Linked DNA regions of Homo sapiens: all the other regions are reported to be linked to region 3. Evidence: microRNA targets listed by miRTarBase, many of them from high-throughput screens and not tested one by one. Region 3 holds a microRNA gene; each other region holds the end of a gene's coding sequence.
What was found. Region 3 holds the annotated microRNA hsa-miR-548ac (CAAAAACCGGCAAUUACUUUUG, at 2,743-2,764, shown strand). A microRNA usually pairs through its seed, bases 2 to 8, with sites in the 3' UTR of a target mRNA and lowers its output. Matches are read on the target gene's strand: a 7mer-m8 pairs with bases 2 to 8, a 7mer-A1 pairs with bases 2 to 7 and ends in A, and an 8mer does both.

Region 1: the mRNA of GPC5 is a reported target of hsa-miR-548ac. The part of its 3' UTR that is shown has no 7-base or 8-base seed match.
Region 2: miRTarBase lists HDGFL2 as a target of hsa-miR-548ac. Seed matches in the 3' UTR shown: 7mer-m8 at 4,065-4,071 and 7mer-m8 at 4,007-4,013.

The regions. Positions count from the first base shown.
Region 1 is chr13:92,865,670-92,870,737 of GRCh38, forward strand. It overlaps GPC5 (glypican 5), which reads left to right. Exons shown (of 8, transcript NM_004466.6): 8 at 613-1,568. The coding sequence ends at 770. Among named protein-coding and RNA genes, the nearest start is that of GPC5-AS1, 150 kb to the left of the region's middle.
Region 2 is chr19:4,501,135-4,506,202 of GRCh38, reverse strand. It overlaps HDGFL2 (HDGF like 2), which reads right to left. Exons shown (of 16, transcript NM_001001520.3): 15 at 4,886-5,012; 16 at 3,996-4,292. The coding sequence ends at 4,193. PLIN4 (perilipin 4) reads left to right here. Exons shown (of 8, transcript NM_001367868.2): 7 at 1,256-1,342; 8 at 1,418-4,011. The coding sequence ends at 1,744. Among named protein-coding and RNA genes, the nearest start is that of PLIN4, 15 kb to the left of the region's middle.
Region 3 is chr1:116,557,727-116,562,801 of GRCh38, reverse strand. It overlaps MIR548AC (microRNA 548ac), which reads left to right and starts at 2,691; the gene lies at 2,691-2,778. The region is part of intron 1 of CD58 (CD58 molecule); the gene reads left to right. LOC105378925 (a long non-coding RNA gene) reads right to left here. Exons shown (of 3, transcript XR_947739.2): 3 at 1,615-5,075. RefSeq lists enhancers at 135-284, 2,884-3,123, 4,175-4,224.

The sequences.
Region 1 (5,068 bases), not on the chromosome of region 3:
GCTAAGGATGTGAGGTGATGGATATGCTAGCCAGCTTGACTTTATCATTCCTCCTGGTATACTTGTCAAAATATCACATTGTACCCCATCAATATCTATAAAATTTGTCAAGTAAAAATGAAAATAAATTTGAAAAAGATCTTAGGCCTACTTTATTCTAATGTAAAATATGATCTGTAGAAATTCTACTTTTAAAAAATATTTTATTCAATTATATCCCCTCAACTGGTTTTATTTTCATGGGAAAAGTTTTCAGTTACTGAAGGTGATAAATCTCTGAAACAAGAACTAATCCCATACCTAGGATATATTAATTAATTAAATGTCTTCACTTACTTACCAGTGGCAGAGAAATGTTCCAAAAATTTTAAAAAGCTAAAAATCTTTTCACTTTGCTCTTATAATATTTGAGAATTTTCACACAAGAGCTTGAACTCTCCAATCTAAGTAGGACAGAAATACCTGTGTCATATTAATTATGTTAGAGTTAGGTGAACATAGAGAATGGTCCCCAAAAACAATGCTGTCCACACTTTGAGTTTAAGAGTTGTTCTAGACGTATTATGGTGAAGTGGTCATGCATCACCTGTGCTTTCTTATTTGCCTCTACAGGGATGCCAGATGATATGAACTTCAGTGATGTAAAGCAAATCCATCAAACAGACACTGGCAGTACTTTAGACACAACAGGAGCAGGATGTGCAGTGGCGACTGAATCTATGACATTCACTCTGATAAGTGTGGTGATGTTACTTCCCGGGATTTGGTAACTGAACTCTTCTGTCCTGACATACCTTACTGAAGTCTCGATTTCTTCTCTCTCTGCATATGCCTGGAATAAGAGATCCTTTTTCAATGTAACAATTATATTTATGAAAAGATATGTTACACTAACTTCTCAGAAGCCAAGCTGAAATATTCATAAAGTCCCTAAAACTCAACGTTTAAATGACACACTTTAAAAATATGTCTTTTTTCAATCTAACTGAAAACCTTCTTAACTTCTAATATATTAAATCTGAAGATGTGAAGGGCACAGAAGTGACTTTGAATAAGAAGAATTTAGTGTATCTGTAATTTTATTATCAATTCCAAGCCCCTTCCTTTCTAAATTAAAAATGTTTTCATTTGAAAGTGTATTTGCCAGACAATGAAAACAGTATGCAGTATTTCTTAAAGTATTGAAATTAGAATATCATGAAATAAATCAAAACATACAATGGCAAGTAGTATGCATGCATATTCAAGAGACTCTTCCATTTTTGCAAGCTGTAGAAGGAAATGTCTGAATGTCTATAAGTTATGGGGTAGATTCTTGAGAAGCATTTCATATAATTTCACTGAAGAACCTTGATAATTTTGACCCACTGTAACTTAGCCACTGATGAACCTTAAAGCTGAGTATTTTATTAACACCTGATTTGTATTCCATTATATTCAAAATGCATCTTTGGTATTGTGCCTCTGCTCCCATCTCTCTCTTTGCCTCATAGATTTAGCTATGTTGGGAAGCACATGCTTGCTCTAGGAATATCTCCAATAAAGCTGTTAACTATTTGGTGGAAAAATTTGAAGAATATTTGTCATTTTCTTCTGGCAAAAATGCTATTTTCACCCATTTTCAAAATATTATGTACTACTTTTTAAAGCCTGATGTTGTACAATTGGCTACCTTTGCATTTCTAAGGTTCCTATGAATATCTGCAGACATGTACAGAAAAGATGATATGCAACACTTTAGCTCTTTCCTATTTGCTCATTAATGGAGCTGCAAACCAACAGTCCCTAATTTCTCAGTTGGGATAAGTTGCCTCAATAGACACTAATAGGATATGTATATGGCTATACTTGAGGAAAAGAGAAGTTAGTTTTTATTAATAAGTATCACATCCAGTCTACAGAGAGAAAATATAATTAATACAAAGTCACAGAATAGAAAAGGGAATTGCTGACCTCAAATAAAAAAAAACAAAAAAAAATTTGAAATGACTTCTGACAAAGACGTAAACAAGACACAGCCAAATGCAAACATTAATAAGGTAAAATCCGTTTCTGCTAGTCAGGAAACAATATATGATCAAACCTTGTTCTCGCTTAAGTTCTCAATTAACAAAATGATCTAAGGATGGTTAGTTTAAATCACAACATTTTTAAGCTGCCCAATCAGGTTTTACCCTCCATTCAAACATGCCTCAGAACCGTAAGTGTTATTCTACCCATCAGTTGTGGATGCCATTTTCCTAGGCTTCCATTCCACACCTAACATTCCCTGATCCATTCAGTTAATAACTCATTTGCACTCACCTTGACACACTCCACAAATTACAAACTTAACCCTATTTTGAAAATTTTTTACTTCAACCTCAGCTCTTCATTTAAATCAGTCTTGGAAAAAAGTGATACTAAGGCACTCATTTGCTGCCCTCCAGCCCAAGTCATGATTGGCTTGCTACGGCAAAATTTCAGACCCAACTTAAGAGGAATTTAATTCTAAAGACAAACAAACTGAAGAGCATGCTTTAGCAGTCTAAGATATATGGATAAAATTAATTGACAGAAGATAATTTCAGATATGGCAAGAAATGGACAAAAGCAGAGTGGTAAAGTCAATACAAGAAATGATTATTTTTTTTTAAACTAAGTTTTACATGCTCAGATGGGTGTTATCTGCAGGTGGGCACTTTGGGGACTATATAAGCAATAATGGTGTTACTAGAGCTTAAAACACTGGGGTTTTCAGAATTTCTTTAAAAGCCTAAGGCAAAATTGTTAATATTCTCAGTAAGGATATACTTATCCATTAACACTTCCCATTCTGTGACATTTCATATCTACATAGTTTCTTATGAATTGCAAAGCTCTTTCAAATGAGAGAGAGTATCTCATTTGGACTTTCTTCGCCCCCTCAAAGATAGGCTTGATTTTCAGTCAAATAAAAACAATAATGCTGATTTTTTATATGGCTCAGAATTTGCTTCTGGAGAGTTTTTCATTAATAAGGTCTAAGAAAGTTTTGAGCAATGATACAAGTGTTGGATATGTGTCTACTTTCCAAGATTATTTAATAGATTACATCAGACTGAATGTATGTATTTAAAAATATCACACACATAGTCACATTTTATGCTGGTGTAATTTTTAAAAGAGCCATATTCTTGAATCCCGGAGTTATTTTTATGAGTTTAAGTAATCATAAAACTTCGTCTGATATTTTGCATATATTGGGGAGACTAGGTTTAGAAGCAGAACTAACATTTACTTGGCCTTTCTTTGTATACGCACCATGATAAATGCCTTGATGCACAATGTCATTTAATCTCCCCAAAAACACTGACATTTCCATTTTACCAATGAGAAAACTGAGCTTATAAATATTAGGGAATTTGACAGATGTCATACAACTAATCATAACAGAGTTAGATGGTGAGTATGATACCTTTAAATAAACTGTATACCTTTCTGGTTCAAAGATACAGTTTTGGAACAACAGCGAGGAACTACAGGTTAGCACAAAAATCATTCAGAGACTACTTAAGTCTCCAAACTAGGATTTAACAAATACAGTTGGCTATAGAATAATTGTCTAATTACCAAAATGCACATTAGTGTAGAAACATAATAAAAAGGAGAAGTGTAAACATGGACTTTTTTTAGTACCATTCATTACCCTCCCATATATTCAAACCCACTCTAAACACATCAGCCCTGAAAATAAATCAGCTGCCGAGAATGAGAAAGAAAACACAACTGTTTTAACTCTAATGGGATCATGAAGTTTATTTTAGTTTCCTTTGCAACAAAAAGGTATAAAACATTTCTTTGGCTATAGGATGGCATAAAAAAATGAAAGGAAGGAGAGGAGGAAGGAAGGAAGGAAAGGAGGGAGGAGGGAGGGAAGGAGGGAGGGAAGGAAGAAGGGAAGGAAGGGAAAGGGCATGGCAGAAAATTATTTTTTAAATCTTAGATTTGCCTTTATCCTCTATTTATTCTGTGAATAAATAATGTCTGCATGGTTACAGTACATGGTACAATAAAATAATGTCTGCATGGTTATCTTCTCACTAAAAAAGGACTGAGGTTAATAAGCTCTTTCCTCCCAACACTCAGATTTTCTGAAGTGCTCAATAATGATGCTTTGAAAAGGACTAAATTCATTTATTACTAACTGTTTGCTATCATATAAAATATTGTTTCTAACATCAGAATCCTTCAAGGACAATAAAAATGATTTTTTTCTTGAATGAATATATTCAACCTAGACGTCTCTTATTCTGAATGAGAACTTTGTTGAGCAGGCTACATCACTATTGTATTTAGTTTGCAACCTTTAATGTCATTCATATACAATTACATGGGTTATGAAAATTCAGAAATAATAATTTCTAATGTTGTTAGGTATGAATGTGAACATATCAAGTTTTTCTTTAAATGCAGATTGTTGTATACAAGTCATTTTTGATTAAAATACAGATAAAACATATTTCTCAAGTCAAAAGTCTGCTTTCCTTGCCTTTAGTAAAATTACAGAGTGACTGAATTACTGTTATAATTACTTTATGACTAGAGATCTAATCAAATATAATTCTTAAGCTATCCTTTCTGCCTCCTTGCACAGAGAAAACTGAGTAATTTCATCACAATATAATTTATATTTCCATAGCAGAAAACAATAACTTATTTGGAAGAGAGTAGAGTAGGAGTGGATGTCCATGGTTACTTTTTGGAAACATCTGATTTAAGAGACTTTTGCCTTCCTGCACTTGCCAATTCTCACACTGGAATCAACTTCATGAAAATGTGTGTGAGAAGATCACGCATCTTATTTTCCCCTTAAAATTTTACTTTGACTACATTGAAGACCAGAGTGAAAGACAATATATCAGAATTTGAAAGACCATAGAATTAAGAACAGAACGGTGAACATTTAAGGATCAAAACTGGTTGGAGACAGAAGGAATGGGACTGACTGCAGTAATAAGTAAATTCTTACTTTTATGAGTTTGATACCCACCTTTAAACATGTTGGATTGGAAGGAATGAAGACTCTTAGAAAAAAAGGGAGGTCTCT
Region 2 (5,068 bases), not on the chromosome of region 3:
GACCCCAAGGGAGTTGGGAGCCCTGGAGGGCTCTGGGCAGAGGAGCGGCCTGATCCAAGGTGGGTTTCATTTAAAAGGATCACTCTGATGGGGGAGGTCAGGCCACCGGGTGGGGGCGAGGGCCAGAGGAGACAGTGGGACGTAAACCCAGGCAAGTGCTGCCGGGCCTCAGGAGTCACGCTGTGGTGGTGAGAAGTAGCTGGGCTCTGGGTGTTTCGAAGTCAGAGCTGCCCGGGTCCGATGTGGGAGGTGAGAGAAGACCCCAAGAGACCCCTGAGGCTTGTAACCTGAGCAGACAAGGAGAGCAGGGGGGCTGAGGGGAGGCCGGGCGGGTTGCAGAGTGGATATTAGGAGCCTGGCCTTGGACAGGGTGAGGGGAGATGCCTGGTGGGCACCGAGGGGACGCGTCTGCATATGCAGCTGGCTTCAGGTCTCCAGCACTGGCGCGGCGAGGGCTGGGAGGGCGACAGCAGTCTGGAGTCGATATTTTGACGGCGTGCCGCATCCCTACCAGCCATTGAGATGATGAGGAAGATGGGGCCCTGTGGACAGGGTGGGGCGTGGGTGCCACGTGCTGGGGACACAGCAACAACGAGGACAGAGTCCTGAGTGTTCCCCTGCCAGGGGCGGATAAACACCAAGTCAATGAACACCAAAGCCGCACGCTGTGCTCCCGAGGAGAGGGGCAGATGTGACGGGAGGGACTGGGGCTGCCACACCATGGGCCAGGAAGGTCTCACCAAGGGTCACCTGGAGCTGAGGCCGAACGCGGACCTTGTGAAGGGCCCGGGAAGCAGGCTCCCGGCTGAGTGGGCAGTGTGTGCAAAGGCCCTGGGGCAGAAGCCTGCTGGAGTGGCCGGAGGGCAGAATGGAGCCAGTGTGGCCTCAGTGGAGACAGCAGTGGGGTGCCATGGGAGATGAGGCCAGAGGTGTCCCAGGGGCCAGCCCACCAAGGCCATGGTGAGGAGCTGGGTTTTATCTTAAGGGTACTGGGCAGCCACAGGTTTAGGGGTGAGGAGTGACACGACCCCACAGACACTGTGTTACGTGCACTCCCTGATGACCTCATGGGGAAGTTTGAACTATTGCCTCTTTCTGCAAGACAACACGCCCACTGTGGTACAACTGACTTGGAACTCGTGGCCTTTCTCCCAGGACTGTGAATGTGCCCAGGTCCCTGGGGGAGGGGGAGGTGGGGGTTGTGAAAGGTCATTTGCCAAGAAGCCATCATTTCCCCACTGTACTCTCTCTCCAGATTGAAAAGGCCCAGCAGGCTCCAGAAGGGCAGCCACGTCTGGACCAGGGCTCAGGTGCCAGTGCGGAGGACGCTGCTGTCCAGGAGGTGGGTCTGGCACAGGGCTAGGGTCCCCCCACCCCGCCCATGGGTCTCCACTCACCTTGCGCCTTCCTCCCACAGGAGCGGGATGCCGGGGTTCTGTCCAGGGTCTGCGGCCTTCTCCGGCAGCTGCACACGGCCTACAGTGGCCTGGTCTCCAGCCTCCAGGGCCTGCCCGCCGAGCTCCAGCAGCCAGTGGGGCGGGCGCGGCACAGCCTCTGTGAGCTCTATGGCATCGTGGCCTCAGCTGGCTCTGTAGAGGAGCTGCCCGCAGAGCGGCTGGTGCAGAGCCGCGAGGGTGTGCACCAGGCTTGGCAGGGGTTAGAGCAGCTGCTGGAGGGCCTACAGCACAATCCCCCGCTCAGCTGGCTGGTAGGGCCCTTCGCCTTGCCCGCTGGCGGGCAGTAGCTGTAGGAGCCTGCAGGCCCGGCGCGGGGTCGCCCTGCTCTGTCCAGGGAGGAGCTGCCTCAGAACTTTCTCCCCGCCCCCAAACCTGGATCGGTTCCCTAAAGCCCTAGACCTTTGGGGCTGCAGCTGGCTGAGCGCCGAGGGGCTGCGGAGGCAGTGACCTTCTTAACTGAGCCACCCCACGCCCTGCTCCGGGCCTGCCTGCATCTCCCACCTCCTCCCCAGCGCTGCCTGCCCCTCTCGGAGCCTGGGGTCACTCAGACCACCAGCCAAGAGCCTTCCCTTGAAGTCCCCAAGCAAGCACTGCAATTAGGAAAGAGAAAAAGCAGCGTGCCCAGCCTGGAAGGGCATCTGTTTGCCCCGCTAGCAACCCTTTTATATCTAGCAGGGCTCTTCCAGTCCTGCAGCACGGGCCCCCAGCTATCAGCGGTGCAGGCAGTGCTGTGGCATCCCAGGCTCCGGGCAGCTCCGTTCTCATGCTGAAAGTGGGTCTCCGGCCTTAGCACACACACCTTGAGGGTCTTAAGAACCACATTCCCTCATAGTAGAAAGTACTAGAAAAAGCGACACTGCCATCATCATCCCAAGGCAGGCTGCTACTGCCTTTGCTGACCCCCGGGGTGGCCTCACGGTGGGGACAAAGCTGCCAGGAGCCACAGCAGCCACAGCTGGGGCTTTGCACCAGCCTGGCTTGAGACTGAGCAGTTTGCAGGGGGTGGGGGGTGCAAAAAACAAGCAAACAGGCTGCTGCTGCCTCCAGCTGCCCACCACAGGCCTGCCCCAGGCACCTGGGGCTCTGAGGCCCCTGGGGAGGCTGGGCCCAGCAGCTGCCCCTGGAGAACACAGACAAAGGACTTCCCCGCAGGGAACTGTGCCCTATGGAGGGATCAGACAGGGCTGGGAACAGCCACAGAGGCTGCGTGCCTATGGCACAGCCCTTCCTCCGCCGCACACTCCCCCTGGGTCCTCAGGCCCACCCAAGCGCCGGGCTGCAGAGGAAGCGGGGCTGGGGAGGCTGCAGGCATCAGAGACACTGGTGGTGGCGGACCCGGCCGCCGGGCCCCGTGCTCTCAGGCTAGCCCAGGTCGTGGAGGCTGGCAGGCTCAGGTCGGGTGTGAGACGTGCCGTGGCTGCGCTCAGTCCAGCGGGGAGGAGCCGTTCAGCCCGGCCTCCCCAGGAAGCCATATCCCCACTCACCCGGTAAGAGAACCTTGTCGTCCCCTTTCCATGCTCTCCTAGGACACGAGCCCAGGAACCCCAGACCCAGGGGGAGGAAGGGTGGAGGGGCCCCAGGGGTCACCGTGTGCACCAGGGGCCGTGAGGGGCCGGGGCATTCAGCTCAGCTCTGAACCGGGGAAGCTGGCACGGCAAGGACTGCCTCAGGTGACGGGCCGTGAGAGGGGACGGGTCAGGAGCCTTCCCAAGCCTTCTCCTCAGCCCGACACCCATGGCCATCGGAGGCTAGGATGCCAGACACAGCCATTTGCAGAAATCAGGCACAGTGACTGCAGCTCACGTCCAGCCAACCAAGCATGGGGCCGCAGCTCAGGAAGTCCCTTCCCGCCACACCACAGCCTAATTCTTACTGGGACGGAGGCAACTCGGCTACGCTGGGCAGGACGACAAACACGAGACGCCACTGTGGAATGAGCAACTTCGGAGCACGGGGTGACTTGCTTGGGACCGTGCCCACGTGACAGCCCCTTATGCAGAGGAGGAAAGAGAAGCCCCGAGTGGGAGGGGAACCTGTCCAAAGTCACACGGTGTGTGGGTGACACAGCTGGGGTGAGTCGAGGCTGGCCCCTGAGGCCCATGCTCCCTGAACGCTGGAGACCACTGTCGGCTAGCAGCGGCTCTCAGGGAAGGCCTGGTCTCCACCCTCCCAGCCTAGCCTCGCGGACCCTCGTCCTCCCCACATCGGACCTGCTCACCTGCCTGGACCCTGGGCTGCCAGATGCAGGAAGCATCAAACCCCCCAGCCTCGTGGGTGCGGGGCAGGGCGCAGGCAGCACAGCTTAGATGCCCTGGTTTGTCCCTCTTGTCTCCTGGGAAGAGCTTGCTCCCGCCCAGCTCTCCTGCCACTGGCCTTTCAGGGTTGGGCTGGGCCCAGAGTGCCTTTTAGTCGCTTCTCACGGTGGCCTGATGGCTCAACCCAGTCCCAAACGGGCCCAGTGACACTGCCGCCTGCGCCCCAGCTCAGGCCCCCACTGCACCAGCAATGCTAGAAAACCAAGCCAATAAAAGTGATTTCTTTTTTCATTAAAAAACCATTTATAGTCATTTCATGTTGGTTGGAAATCACAGAAATTAGGCAGGAAAAAAAAACCCAAGGGAACAAATACAAACAGCACAGCGTTCCCCACAGTTCTCTGCTCTGCTCTCCTGCGAGCCGGGGAAGGAGAGGGGCAGCCTGAGCTCGGGCGGGGGCTGGGCCTGGCTGCCCGCGGCTCAGCTCTCCTCGTCCAGGGCCTCCGAGTCCCCCCGTGCCCTCTCGCGCTCCTGCCGGTCGCTCCCAGGCCTGTCCAGGTCGGGACCCTCCCGTACGCTGCTGGTGGGAACAGCAAAGGCGGTGTGAGGATGCCCTCCCGCCCCTGCCCTGCCTGTAGGGCGGTTGGGTGGGATGGGCACCGAGGAGTGTACCCCCGTTGTGGCACCTGAGGCTCGAGTGCCGCCCTCCTATCTGCCTGTCTTCTGCCACTAGAGACCACAACCATCTCCAGGGTCCCCACGCTGGCGCCAGCCAGGCATAGCACAAGGCAGCTGCTGGGTAAGTGAGTGACTCCACTGAGCCTTGTACCAGACAGCAGCCCACAGTGATGGGCACAGGCACCGTCAGATAGCCGGGTGCCCGTGCTCGGGGCCTACCTACCTGGGCCACCCTGGAGGCTCGGCAAGAAGCCACCTTCCCAGGAGGCCAGGGGCAGGCAGCTCAAAGCCCTGGAGCTGCCTCTCTGTAGGGGCCGCCGGAAGTGCCAGCCAGCGGGGCCCTGGGGTCAGCTGTGAAGGTGGGAGGCCCGAGTAAGGACGACATCCCTGGGACCCATCCCAGAGGGACTGGCACAGGAGGAGCGGCTCGGACCCAGGGTGCGCGTCACACCGCTGCCGCTCAGGAGTCCAAACCCCACGGCCCGGGACACTCACTCGTGCAGGTCTTCAGAGGAGCCACACCTTGGCCCCTCCTCCGAGTCCCGACCCTCCTCGTGCTCCTTGTCCTCTGCGCTCTCCCCCTTCTGTGATGTGGCCTCGCCATTCACTGGGGCTGAGAGATCTGGGTGGGACAGAGGGGTCACAGGACACTGCTGGGCTCCAGCTGGGCACCCCAGA
Region 3 (5,075 bases):
AAGGGCAGGGCCAGGTGGAGATAATTGAATCATGAGGGCAGTTTCCTCTATACTGTTCTTGTGATAGTGAATAAGTCTCACAAGATCTGATGGTTTCATAAAGGGGAGTTCCCCTGCACACGCTCTCTCTTGCCTGCCACCATTAAGACATGACTTTGCTTCTCCTTTGCCTTCTGCCATGATTGTGAGGTTTCCCTGGCCATGTGGAACTGTGAGTCCATTGAGCCTCTTTCCTTGATAAATTACCCAGTCTCATGTATGTCATTATTAGCAGTGCGAGAATGGACTAATACACCCCATCTCTACAAAAAGTTAGCCAGGTGTGGTGGTGCACGCCTGTAGTCCCAGCTACTCAGGAGGCTGAGATGAGCCTGGCAATTGCTTGAGTCTGGGAATTTGAGGCTGCAGTGAGCCATGATGACACAACTGCATTCCAGCCTGGGTAACAGAGCAAAAAAATAAAAAATAAAAAGGTAGGAACTATTTTATTATTAACAGAGTCTGTCTTATTCTGCTGTTGTTGACATTTTACAGATCCTTTATTGCCAACTATCTGCATAACTAGATTTTAAGTTCCTTGTATGCAGAAGTCATGTATTATTTTTTAAAATTTTCCTTATATTGATCTGTTTTTTTTTAATAGTAAAGATTGTTGAATCTGAACATTAGATGACAATGTATTTGTCCAGCATTTCTCCATTTGAAATTATCTCACATTATTATGTGAGACTTGTTCATGTGCTTTGCTGGAGTTGAGACTTAGACAGTCTGTGTTTTTTTATTTAGCAAAGATAATCCAAGTTAAAATAGTGTTGTGTGTTCCTATAGGAAAACTAGGCCCAGTGTTATAACAGAGTGTAAGTAATAATAGCCACTAGGAGGTAAGTACCTGCTCTGTGCCAGGAGCTATGCTTCAGATTTGAGATGTTTTTATTTAATTGTCACACTGATTTTATTACATAGGGAACATTTAATAGGAGAACAAAGCTTAGGTAGGTTCAGTAATGTGTCCAAGTTCACACAGCAAATAAGTGGCAGAGTGAACTTGAACTTTGATTCTCTCTGAATCAGAACCTATTCCTTTATATGCTCTGTTGTATCCCTAGCCTGAGATCCACTAAGCAACTTTTTGAAGATGAGTACTACTGATTTCTTATATCCAACATGTATACATTGTCCAATGAAATTCTGCTAAAACATGGGAAATATAGGTCAGCACAATTACCAGTCATGCAAAATTGTATTTAATATCATAATTTGTAATGGTGAGGGGTGCTTCTTTGGGACATAGAATTTACAATGGCAATTTATTGACATATTTATTATTAACATTATTATATTTACATTCTCTAGGTACCCACATTTCACTCCTAGACACTTTTGCATAATCTCAATAACATCATAACATCTATAAATATTAACACTAATCCTGTAACATCACCTAACTTTTACCCGTATTCAGATTTCCCCACTTGTCACAAGAGTGTCTTTTGTTAAAAAACCCGGATCTAATCAAGTTTCACTCATTGTATTCGTTGCTATGTTTTTTTGTTTTAATTTTGATGGGCATCTTTCAGAAGTTTTAAAATAGTCTTAGAACCTCTTTTTAAGAACCAGATTTGAATAATTTATTTTATTGACCTCCTTGTCACTCTAACATTTCTTTAGTAAATACAGGCTTTGAGGGTAGGTATTGGTTTCTCTGTTTAAAAGTAGAAACTTTGCATAAATCAGCCCTTATATGTGTAAGTTTTCTGCCTTTTGGTTTCTTCTCATGCTGTTTCTGCACAAGTGCCTAAGCTTTTTTGAAGCTTTACTTGAGGGGTGACCAGAAGGTTTTACTTAAGGACACAGACCCTTAAATTCTGCAATGACAAATCTCAACTTCCATCTCAGGGTTGTAAGTGAAACCAGGATGCAGCCGTTTCTCTTTTCTCAGATAAGTTCAGGTTTGAATATAAAGTGTGACTATAAGATACAGAGACTGTCCCTAGAAAAGGAGGGGAAAACATTTTAGCAGTTCCTCTTTGGAGATAACTTTCAGTGCCTGCCCATCAGCCTCCAAGGAAAATGCTTTTTGGTTACTTTATAGGTTCTAGTGAACTTTGCTTACTTTACAATGTTCCCCAAAATGTCTGTTGAGATTAGTGCCTGAATTTCCACTGGGCTGACCAGTCTGTAGTTTCTTGAACATTTTCTTCCTATGCCAGTTAAAAATTAGAAGAAAATTGAAGTTTAACATACACATTCAGAAAAAAATAAAAAATCAGATTAATAAGAAACTAATGAGGCTGTGCCATTGTAAACTACTTGCAATAGAGTTTCCCAACGATGAACTGAGTATCTAGAAAATAACAAGGATTCTCAAGGAATTTTAGTGAAATGATCAGTACTGTATTGAAATACCTTGAATCAGACTTTGGAGAATAGATTTAAAAACACTCACAGCCTTAACCGATCTAGTAAGAACCTTATTCCCTAAAGCATACTGTGGATCTCAGCTGTATCCTATCTAAGGTGAGAACAGTCAAAGACAAATGTGGCCTTTGAGAAAGGTGGGATGTGAGTGTCTTGAAACAACAGGCTAAAGAAGTGCTCTCAAATAGAAGTATAATATGGAACATGTGAAATTAATTTTAATAATATATTTTAGTTAACCTAATATATCCATAATATTTTCATTTCGACATGTATTAGGTTGGTGCAAAAGTTATTGTGGTTTTTGCTATTTTTTTTTAATGGCAAAAACCGGCAATTACTTTTGCACTAACCTAGTAGTTACTACAAAAAAATATTAACAAGAGATTTTATGTTCCACTTTTTAATACCAGGTCTTCAGATTCTGGTGTGTATTTGATACTCAGAACACATCTCCATTTGAACTAACCATATTTCAGGTTCTCACTAGCCACTTGTAGCTGGTAGCTACTTTGATGGATTGCATAGGTCTAAAGGGAAACATCTTGAGAAAGAAGAAATAGGTTAAGTGCAAGAACAAGAATTAAAAAGGAAACTATTTTAGCATCATATTAGAAGGAAAGTACAGAAAGAAGTTGATTTAGAGAACCAACATCTTAATTCTTGATGAACTTATCGAGGAGGCAGATTGACAGCTGAGAGCAAGGTCCGGGAACCTTGCTCTGGCCTTGGGGACCGAGGGTTTGTAACCGTTGGGAGACAGGTGGCTGCAGTTTCAGTATGAAGTAGATGAGGGCAGGGAAACTGGTGGTGGTGTGGCTGAAATCAGTAAATCTCTGTCTTAAGGAAATAAGAGAAGTCACTAACTGGGACCGGCTAAGGGTGGAATCGATCAGGAAAAAAGAGGAATGGCCCCAACCAAGGCATCTGATGTTCTGGCCAACAGTGCAGGCTCTGGGGCCGACTGCCTGTGTCTGGACACCAGCTCTGCCCCTTGCTAGCTGAGTGAATGCAGTCAGCTGACCCTCTCAGTCCATTTCTTCATCTGTAGCCTGGTGCTTCGGAATCTTTGACCTTCTCTATCAACCAAGTGTCCAGCGGAGCAAACCACCTTACTTTGATAGGCGTGTTCTCAAGAAATAACTCCTTTCTCACTCTCACCCCAGATGTTCTTAGGCTCGCTCCCCTGCTTTTCTGGACTCTGCTCAGATGCCAACTTATGACTGCCCCCCATGCCATCCAACTCCTTTCCTTACCAGTACTCCTCAGCCCCCACACTCTGCTTTATTTTTCTCTATAGCACTTAACATCATCCAACATCATCCAAATAAAAGATATTTACTTTTTCATTTATTATGTTCTTCCCTCCACTGAAAAATAGACTCCAAGAGGGCTGGGATTTTGTCTGTTTTGTTCATTGCTATATCCTGCCTGCTTATTTCAGTGTCTGGCACATAGGCAGGACTCCATGAACATTTGATGAACAAATAAATGAATAATAAGAACTACCTCAGAGTTGAGTTGAGGATTAAATGAGTTAATACACAAACAGCTCTTGGAACAAGTGCTTGTCACATAGTAAGCCTGCAGTGAATCTTCGTGCTGCTGCTACTGTTAAATATTATTACTGAGGCTGAGCTGGCCTAGGGCTCCTTGGATTGGACTTGCTAAGAGCTAGGCAAGAGTCACAACTGTATGAAACTTGATTGAGTTAAAACAAACAGTGCTACTCCTCTTTATTATCTCCATGCCTGGTAAGCACATTTTCTACCCCCAAAATTGGGACTGACTAATATGAGAATATTTATGGCCTTAATAGGACAGGTTATTTGATACAATTACTAGCCTAGACATTTTAGGAGATTGGCCGCTCCTCAATACTATAAATGCATATATGGGTGTGTAGATAGAGATGTTGCTTCCCAGATTGCCACACATCCTGATACTGCAAGTAGGCATCAACTGAAAATGTGCCGTGATGTGAAGACCAAACGCAGAGAAGTGAGAGGGACAAGGCTGTGCTCAGTGACCCATATCCAGATGAGAAATCCATCTGCTCACTTGGGAGCAAAAATGCCCCAAGACCCTGCTATCTCTGGGCTTGCACGAGGCTTTAAATGAATCACCATTATGATGTCTTATATTCAGAGGGAAATACCAATATTCATATATTCAGGTACTGAAACTTTTAAGGGAATTTTTCTTTTTTCTTTCTTTTTTTTTTTTTTTTGGTCAAATGAACTTTTACTTTACCTGCTAAAATCTGCAGGCAGTGTGAGCCTTAAAATATTTTAGAGAGAGAGAGAGAAGTATCTTAAAATTACATTGTTTATTTCTAAGAACAAACTCAAGAAAACCCTTTCCTTCAAATCCCGGAAGAGTGATTAGCTTGTCTCTAAGGTATGGCATTGGCTGGGCATGGTGGCTCATGCTTGTAATCTCAGCACTTCAGAAGGCCCAGGGAGGAGGATCACTTGAGCCCACGAGTTTGAGATCAGCCTGAGCAACATAGTGAGACCTTGTTTCTACAAAAAATATAAAAATTAGCTGGGCGTGGTGGCATGCAACTGTAGTTCTAGCTACTTGGGAGGCTGAGGCAGAAGGATCACTTGAGCCCAGGAGGTTGAAGCTACAGTGAGCCACGATTGCACCACTGC